Regions from separate parts of the Homo sapiens genome. Here regions 1 and 2 are each reported to be linked to region 3. Evidence: microRNA targets listed by miRTarBase, many of them from high-throughput screens and not tested one by one. Region 3 holds a microRNA gene; each other region holds the end of a gene's coding sequence.

Evidence for each region. The annotated mature microRNA hsa-miR-30b-3p reads CUGGGAGGUGGAUGUUUACUUC and lies in region 3 at 2,166-2,187, opposite strand. An mRNA with a match to its seed (bases 2 to 7 or 8) in the 3' UTR can be bound and repressed. Matches are read on the target gene's strand: a 7mer-m8 pairs with bases 2 to 8, a 7mer-A1 pairs with bases 2 to 7 and ends in A, and an 8mer does both.
Region 1: miRTarBase lists HECTD3 as a target of hsa-miR-30b-3p. The part of its 3' UTR that is shown has no 7-base or 8-base seed match.
Region 2: the mRNA of DHX40 is a reported target of hsa-miR-30b-3p. The part of its 3' UTR that is shown has no 7-base or 8-base seed match.

Annotation. Positions count from the first base shown.
Region 1 is chr1:45,000,910-45,004,092 of GRCh38, reverse strand. HECTD3 (HECT domain E3 ubiquitin protein ligase 3) reads left to right here. Exons shown (of 21, transcript NM_024602.6): 18 at 1-33; 19 at 157-238; 20 at 353-424; 21 at 517-1,545. The coding sequence ends at 601. Among named protein-coding and RNA genes, the nearest start is that of HECTD3, 8.8 kb to the left of the region's middle.
Region 2 is chr17:59,606,456-59,609,638 of GRCh38, forward strand. DHX40 (DEAH-box helicase 40) reads left to right here. Exons shown (of 18, transcript NM_024612.5): 18 at 578-1,890. The coding sequence ends at 717. Among named protein-coding and RNA genes, the nearest start is that of CLTC, 12 kb to the right of the region's middle.
Region 3 is chr8:134,798,367-134,801,549 of GRCh38, forward strand. MIR30B (microRNA 30b) reads right to left here and starts at 2,241; the gene lies at 2,154-2,241. It also overlaps a transcript of ZFAT not described here.

The sequences.
Region 1 (3,183 bases), not on the chromosome of region 3:
ATTTCTGGGAGGCACTGAACAACTTCACCAACGGTCAGTGGAGGAGGGCAGGGTGACACCTGGGTTTGGACTCTGCTGCTGAGTTGCAGAGGCAGGGTAGAAGTTGTAGACCCTCCCTCACCATCCATGCAGGCACTGATTTCCTTCTCCCTCCAGAGGACCGGAGCCGCTTCCTGCGCTTTGTCACGGGCCGCAGTCGCCTGCCAGCACGGATCTACATCTACCCAGACAAGCTGGGGTGAGTGCTGGAGGGAGGCCTGAAGGTGCCATGGCCGCCTTCTGTCCTCCCTCCCCACACACGTACATGTGCCCCAACACATCTTCCTGACCTATGGTCCCTCAATGCCCCCAGCTACGAGACCACAGACGCGCTGCCCGAGTCTTCCACTTGCTCCAGCACCCTCTTCCTGCCACACTATGCCAGGTGGGTTTTTTCCTAGGCTCGATTTGGGGCCCAGGGGACCCCATCACCCCTGGTAGCGATGTAGGGACCTGACCAAGTCCCCATTCCCACAGTGCCAAGGTATGCGAGGAGAAGCTCCGCTATGCGGCCTACAACTGCGTGGCCATCGACACTGACATGAGCCCTTGGGAGGAGTGAGGCGTGCCGCCGGCTGTGGGACCAGCAAGACTGCACGTGTCCCTCTTGGCCTTGCCCAGGGCGAAGACACCTTCCCTGCCCTGGTTTGGCTGACGTGCTCAGCAAAACCCCATGTGCCCTGCTCCTGTGTGCAGTTGGGGTAGGGGCAGCTGGCATGGTCAGGTAACACTAGTGGCCCAGCCCCGCAGACCCACAAGCCCTACCCGTGCTGGGGCTTGCTTCCCGAGGTATTTCACCTCTTAAGAGGGAATCTTCCACAAGCCCAGCACAAGCTGCCAGGCCTGAGCTACTTGAAGGGGGCCATCTAGGTCCCCAACCCATGGACTTTGCCTCCATTTTCAGCTCCGCCTTTTTTCTCCTATTTTCTCTCTGGCTTTCTTCAGCCATGACTCACAACTAAAAACATAAAACACTGGAGGTTAGTGGAGGCCCCTCCCCAAGCAGGGAGCCTGGGATGGGCAGGGAGTGATAGCCAAACTCCTTGGTCACCTGCTCCAAGAAGGAAGCAGTAGCTGAGCACCTGCCCTCACATTCTGCTCTTTTCCCCTCTCCCTCCATACCAGAGATGTGGTGAGCTCTGTTCTTCTACCAACCCAGTCTCAACACACAAAGTGCCACCACCTTCCCTGACTCAGAACCCACATCCACTCAATGTGAACTCTACTACCACGACCTCCCCATATTCCTCACTTCTCCATCACCTCCAGCCTGACTCCCTGTCTGCCCTTTCACCCCCAAGATTTTGCACAGGTTAAGGCCAGTTATGGCCTTTTTGAAATCTGTAATAGCTCCCCTTTCCCCAACTCTAAAGCCTAGACCTTAAACCTGTTCCTAGAGCTATGCACACCCCTGCCCCAGTTTACCGTTCCTCCCTCAGGGCCTCCGTGACACTCCATGAAAAGAAGTTCTTGCATACCGGAAAGTTGAATAAATGGATGAATTCATTCCTTCAGAATGTGTTTATTGGGCCCTGGGCTTAGGCACAGGGTCACAAGGAGAAATTGACTTTAGTGTCCTACTCGGAGCCAAGAAGATGGATGTGAAATGCAAGTAGAGGTTTCTCAGTGACAGACTTTGCACAGTTACATATCTGGGGCTGAGCAGAGACGTAAGGGCCCCACTGCGCAGAAAAGGGAAAACAAGCAAACAGGCTGGCCTGGCATTTTCTGGCATGGATATGGTGATTTGGAGGATGGGAGTCCACTTCTGGAGCCAAGTGGGCAGAAGAATTTGACATCATAGAAGACAGAGACGGGAGGGCTGACAAACCAGCCAGGTCAGGGTTGTTGACAGAAGTGGAGGAAGTAGTGTCTTTATTACCCTGCCCCCAACCCGTTGCAGTCCTTTTTGGGTGTTTGTTTGTTTGTTTGTTTGTTTGGGTCTCTGTTGCTTAGGCTGGCGTGTAGTGGTGCAGTCACGGCTTACTCCAGCCTGGGCCTCCTGGGCTCCAGTGATCTTCCCACCTCAGCCTCCTGAGTAGCTGGGACCACAAGTATGCCACCGCTTCTGGGTAATTTTTTGCAGAGATAGGGGTCTCCCTATGTTGAACAGGTTGTTCTCGAACTCCTGGCCTCAGGCATTCCTCCCACCTCAGCCTCCCAGAGTGCTAGGATTACAGGCCTGAGTAGTCTTCAAGAACAAGTACCTGGGGCCGGCGACTCATACCTGGAATTCCAGCACTTTGGGAGGCTGAGGTGGGCGGACCACTTGAGCCCAGGAGTTGGAGACCAGCCTGGCCAACGTGGTGAAACCCTCTCTCTATTAAAAATACGAAAATGAGCAGGGCTTGGGTGCGTGTCTGTGGTGCCAGTTGGGAGACTGAGGTGGGAGGATCGCTTGAGCCTAGGAGGTGGAGGTTGTAGTGAGCCAAGATCATGCCACTGCACTTCAGCCTGGGCAACAGAGTGAGACCCTCTATCCAAAAAAAAAAAAAGGAGTATCAGGGAGAACCCTGTGTACGAACAGTCCCCCTACACCCCCACAGTGGCCAGTCACGCTCTCAAGCACAGCCCCAGGGTCCCAGTCGTCTCAGAGTCCAGGTACAATGTGAGACCTTGTGGTGGCTGATTGTCCAGATAAGTGGCTTGGCGGAGTCTCGCCCTGGCAACTCTTCCCCTTCTTGTCCTCTAGGGCACTCCCTGACACTGCCCTAGTTGGGAAACTTACTGTGCAAGAGGTTGATCTCTGCCTGCACTGTGTGCACCCTGAGACCTATCCCAAAACACGGAACTTGACAGCTCAGTCTCTCGGCTGCCACCGCCTCCCCTGTACCCCTGCACCTTGGGTGGTGAACCCCCTTCCCTTCCAGGAAGCAGAAGGCACAGAAACCCCCAAGGCCACCACTTCCACCCAGCTCTGCTCTTCCCAAGTCAGGGTGCACCTCTCCCTTCTCTCCCCTCAGGAAAGGGCCCAGGCCACGTGCTCCTACAGGAAGTAGCCAGTTTCTGTGCCTGGTATGGTCACATGAACTCTTTAGTCCCTTTTTTACTCACACTGTATATTTTGTAGCCTGCATTTCATTTAACCCTTCATTCATTCAATAAACTAATATGCATCAAGCCCCTAGGTCAGGCACTGCACTA
Region 2 (3,183 bases), not on the chromosome of region 3:
CACTAGGGAGGCCAGGCATGGTGGCTCACGCCTGTAATCCCAGCACTTTGGGAGACCAAGGCGGGCGGATCACGAGGTCAGGAGATCGAGACCATCCTGGCTAACACGGTGAAACCCCGTCTCTACTAAATATACAAAAAACTAGCTGGGTGTGGTGGCGGGCGCCTGTAGTCCCAGCTACTCGGGAGGCTGAGGCAGGAGAATGGCGTGAACCCAGGAGGCAGAGCTTGCAGTGAGCCGAGATTGCGCCACTGCACTCCAGCCTGGGCGACAGAGTGAGACTCCGTCTCAAAAAAAAAAAAAAAAAGAAAAGAAATCTTAGCCACTAGGTGTTCTATTACAGTGTAATAACACTGCCACATGCTTGAATTAGGGTCAGTTTTTCTGACTCATTGGCCTTGGTGCTCTTAATTTTGTAACCATAGACTACATTGCTTTTGAAAGGGCAAAATTTAATTTTTCTCTTTATTGTTTTTACTTTGTTAACACTGAAAAATCAGGGCTTCTCTTTCTCTTAACATTTCTAGTACTGAATCTCAAAGCTAAGTTTTATTGGATTAATTTGTAATGTTTTCAGATGGAATATCGAAAGACGTCTTAAAGAAAATGCAAAGAAGAAATGATGACAAATCCATATCTGATGCACGGGCTCGTTTCCTTGAGAGAAAGCAGCAGAGGACCCAGGACCACAGTGACACACGAAAGGAAACAGGCTAAGGTGGTGAACCCTCCAATTCAGGAAGTGGGAAAAGGAGCCAGGAAATGTGCTTCTACTTTGCCAGTTATTTCAGACAGCACTACCAAGAGGAGGTGGTCAGCACTTGTTATTGGCCTATGAACTAAAAGCAAATCAAAGCTCATAAATCAAAGCTCATCAGTTCCCATAAATGCAGTTGTCAAAGAAAAGATTTGGTTGCCATAGTCATAAGCAATGATACATGAAACCAATGAAAGACAGTACATGTAATAATATTTTCCTCAGTACAATTTTGCTGGCCTTAACTGGTATCAAACGCTGTCATTGAGATGTTTTCAAAGAACATTGAGTTGTATTTAATCAGCGTGTACTCCATTTGCATTGAAGCATTAAAAATTATTTTTCTTAAAATCTCTTTAAGGCCTTCTTGTTGCTGTTAGAATAGTGCTATATATCAGGTATGTGACCATTTATTTCAGAAGGCTGAACATAAGAGGTTTCTACTCAGCAATACTTAGATGTCTAACTGTTTAATTGCTACAGAGCTTTATAGATATTTAGAGAAAAGACTTAATCAATTAGTAAATAAAATTGCCTATGGCAGGATTCTTTCTTGAATTAATATTAATCCTTAAATTGATTTTTCTGGGATTATACAAATTCCTTTTTATATAAAAGTATATTGTTTAAAACAGTAGCTATAGCCATTAACCAAAGGACAGATGATATATATATATATGATATATATATATATATAAGTTCTTTTTTAGCTGTACCTACGTACTTATATCAGCACCATGTATGTAGGTGTGATAGTACTTTCAAACAGCGCCTCCACCTGGCCTACTCTGTTATTTCCACCTGTTTGGGTAGGGCCATTTAACTTCCATTATGCCAAACTTGGGATGGGATTTTCGAAGCAGACAACACTATTTCATCGTGTTTCAAATTGGAACCTTGAGGCTAGTTAGTATCACACTCAGGCCACACTCAGCACTTGCCCACTCTTGTTTACTGCCTTGTATTCTAGTTATTTGTGTATTTGTCTCCCTCACTAGATTATACGCTCCTTGTGGGCAGGGACTGTGTCTTTTTTCATCTTTGTATCTTTCATGCACCTAGCATAGTGCTTTGCACATAGTAGTCACTCAGTGTTTGTTAAATAAAGCTATTAGTGTCATTAAAATTCAAAAGACAGTATAATGTGTGTTTTTAGATATTTTGTGTAAAAATTAAGAATCTAAATTTTTTATCGGTAACTCTTCTAGTTATTTCCTTTGGAATCTAGTTTTATGTTCAATAATAGAAACTTGAAATCTTTATCAAAAATCACAAGGACCCAAATTCATGTATTTGTCCCTAAAGTAAGGTGAGTGATGATGGTTTCTCTAAACCTTTCCAGTGTTTTAATTTGTTAATTTTTTTTTTTTTTTTTTTGAGACGGAGTCTCACTTTGTCGCCCAGGCTGGAGTACGGTGGCATGATCTTGGCTCACTGCAAGCTCCGCCTCCCAGGTTCACGCCATTCTCCTGCCTCAGCCTCCCGAGTAGCTGGGACTACAGGCATCCACCACTATGCCTGGCTAATTTTTTGTATTTTTTAGTAGAGACGGGGTTTCACCGTGTTAGCCAGGATGGTCTTGATCTCCTGACCTCATGATGCGCCCGCCTCTGCCTCCCAGAGTGCTGGGATTACAGGCGTGAGTCACCGCGCCTGGCCTAATTTGTTCATTTTTATCTTTAGTGCTCTAGACACTGTTATTAGCACATATTAATCATTTAGTTCTGTCAGTTTCTCTTCTCAGGTGTATTGTATAAGGGCATATCCTCAGATGTGGTGGGAGTGTGTGGATTCTTGGAATGAGAGCTCTTCTAGTTTAGTAAATATTAAGCATATATTCTGAATCTACACCTCACACTCAAATTATATCTGTTGTTTCAGTAATGTCCTTTATGGCATTTTTCTGTAGTTCAAGATTTAGTCTAGGATCACGTATTGTATTTAGTCTCTTAATCTGGAAAAAGTCCTCAGTCCTTGTCTTTCACAACATTAACATTTTAAAATAATATAAGCTAGTTATTTTATAGAATGTTCTCAATTTGGGTTTCTCCAATGTTTCTTCATGGTTATGCATTTTTAACTGGAATACTGCATAAGTAATAGTGTCATGGTATCACGTCTGGAGGTACATGGCATTTTCCCCTTGCTGGTGTTATTAATGTTAATTACTTATTAGGGTGCTTTTTAAATTATATCAACCTGGTTATCCTTATAATTCATAAATAATTTGAGGGAGAGATACTTTGACATTATATAAAATATCTCGTTCCTCATAAAATATGACATTTTGTATTTACCATCAATTGATGATTCTTGCCTGAATCCATTTTATTCTTATGGCTGCAAAATGGTGATTTTTTTTTCTAATTCTTTTCTATATTTGTTGGTATTATATTGTAAGGAAGAGTTTTCCTTGAAGGATGAAT
Region 3 (3,183 bases):
AACATATATCCAGATTTCATAACATTTAAAACTGATAAGCACACATTAATCAGAAAATATGTGATTAGAATATATTTACTAAAATTCTGTAACAATTCTAATAAATATACAGTGTTTTAAAAAATGAAGGCATGTACCTTCCTGTAAGGGTGGGAGACAGCTAACTGTAAGTAGAATGTTTCACTGCATTAATTCAAACAAGAAAAATACTCAAATTTTCACTTAAGTACAACATAGTTTCATGTATAGCTTCTTCTAAGAGACAAAGTGAGGCAAATCTGATAGCCCACATGATCAAAGACCTTATTACATAATCAGGAATGTATGTAATATAAAGATATAAACATATGGCCATTAAACAAGAAGAAAAAAGGCAATGAATTAAACACTAGAATTAGGAATTTAACCTACAGGCTATTTTGTAGCCTAAACCACATGCATATGCTGAGTATTTTTCACATCTAGCATATGAAAGAAAAATTCTATATTTTATGCACTGAGGTTCAAAAACAAATTGATGGGCAATTCCCAAATATGCTTAATTTGGGAGAAAAACACTTCATAAAACTACCTTTACATTATATGCTTTGTAATGCATTGCAATATGTTTCTCAAAGTACTATAAATTATAAAATAATGTAAAAATTTGGCAAGTTTCAAATTAACATGTGGAGCTCACTAAAACATAGTATGCTATGCACCTAAGTACAGAATAAAACAGCTCTCTCGTAATGACAAAGAAAATTAACAAATTATTCATTAAACAAATAAAATATATAATTAGAAAAACAGCACTCACCTTCAACAAGTCTCCATGCTTTCATTTCACATTTTTATTTAATCATGTATTTCTCATAACATTTAGACATCTTCCACAGGAGCACCAAGCATGAATTCTAATTCTGGATTTAGGCACAGGCAAGAGCATACAGACACTTGCCAAGCTGCTAGGATGTGTGTACTTCTTACATAATTTTCGTTTTATACTTGTTTGTTTTGCTTTTCACCTATACAGAATGTGGATGTATCACCAAAAAAAGAAAAGGCAGGCTGATTTCATGGAACTGAAAAACAAAGCTATAAAAAATTAATTTTCAGTATTTTAAGTAAAGACATGAAAATGGAAATAACGTTTAGACCAATCAGTACATATATAGAACTAATTATCAGGTATTAGCTTATTTTTAAATTGTTACCTCATTTAGTCTCAACAATCCTATCAGGTAGGTGCTATTATAATTTCAATTTAGTCGACTGAGGAAACTGAGGCACAGAGAGATTAATAACTTCCCCCAAAGTAACATAGCGAAGTAACTCGCAGAATCAAGATATGAGCTCCAGAAGCTGGGATTCAAAATTCTTTGCCACTATATTACAACAATATCAAAGATTCAAAGCATTTCCATTAAACCAAAAAGTTGGCATCATCTTTATTGCAAAAATAAAAACAAGTTATGTCTGCTTTAAGCATTATGGCAACTATTTACTGAACACCTACAACACAGCATTAATAATAACTAGCATTTATTGAGTACTTAATATGACAGGTACTGTACTAATGAACAACTTTATATTCATCATGTAAGTCAATCCATGCAATCACATACTTATTTTACAGATGAGAAAACCACTGAGGTATGGAAACAGTGCCTTTCCCTCCTCCAAATCCCGTAGCAAATTCACTTGTGGAGTCCAGATGGCAACAAATGTCTGATGTCAAAGCCCATGCTTGTTAAAGCACACTGCAATACTACAAACCCGACCCCAACTACCAAACAAGGGCATTCTTTTGTCCCAATACCCAGAGCCTTATGTCATGTTAGTGCTATAGCAAAATTGAAAAGATACAATAAAAATTTAAATTGAGTAACAAATTTAAAGGAATTTTAATAAATTTAGAGTAATTTTTCCTCTATAAGCATACTGTTTTTCTGTTTTAACTACTCCTACTGCAACCATGCTTTCTTCTGCTTTTCTCTGCAAACATATTCAAGTAGATCCCTGCCAGCTAGACAATTAACACACTTTTTCTCTGGGAGAACAAAATGGTCTCACATTTCCAACAAACCTTTAATTACATTAATTACATTAAAAATTCAAGCCTCTGTATACTATTCTTGCCAAATCTTTTATCAATGTTAATTGGTTGACATTCCAAGTCAGCTGAAGTAAACATCCACCTCCCAGCCAATCCATGTATTACAGCTGAGTGTAGGATGTTTACATGAACTGAAACTTGGTTTAAAGCAGGACTTAAACTCTTTACTAAGTTTGTACGGTTCTTTACGTAAGACTCTGTTGAAAAAAAGAACAGGCACAGCATTCACATAAATGAGGCAAGACTCAATCGGAAAGATATCCTGAGAGAAAGTGTAGAATCCAAGGAAAAGGCAGAAGTGAGTTGGGTGTTTGTTTTTTTGGAAGTGGGGGCGTGTCCAGGGCAGTGGGGGGCACTACAGGCACGCTACTATGCCCGGCTAATTTTTCTTATTAATAAAATTTTTTTTAGAGACAAGGTCTCACTATATTGCCCAGGCTAGTCACAAACAAGTGATAACGTTTTTCACCAAAGGAATTTACAACAATAAATGCCGACATCCTGTAGTGTTCCATATCTAAATGTAGCTGATTATCCAGCCTTCCTATATCCTTCCCTTCAAAACAATCAAACTTGCATTTATAAGAACTTACTTGATGACCAGTATGATGCATCAACCAATCTTCATTAAGAAGATTCCTCCTTTAGGTAAAAGACAGTTAATGAAACACTGTGAGGAGCTTAGTCATCTCTCCTCCCCCTCAACCCTCTCCTCATCTTCTCCCCCACATTCAGAATTCAGATAATTTCATCTCAGGCACATCTTTCCCACACTCTGATCTCTTTCCACCTTCTACTGTTCCCAGTGTCATTAAGGTGTCTCAAAGAAATGTCTCCCCCTCTTTTTGCATTCTTTCTGATTAAAAATATATTCCCACAAATATCTCCACTAACTATTATCAGTGGTCCTACCAACACACTTGCATCAAAGAAGAGGAAATCTTCAAATTTGGAAGTAAAACTACATATAATAACCACTGCCAGCAAACTTTAAAAATCTTTGGCATTTCACAGGTAACCCAGGACTTTCAGGAACCTCGCCAGTCTCTACCTAGTCTCTTGTCCCTTCGGGCTGTTTTCCAAAA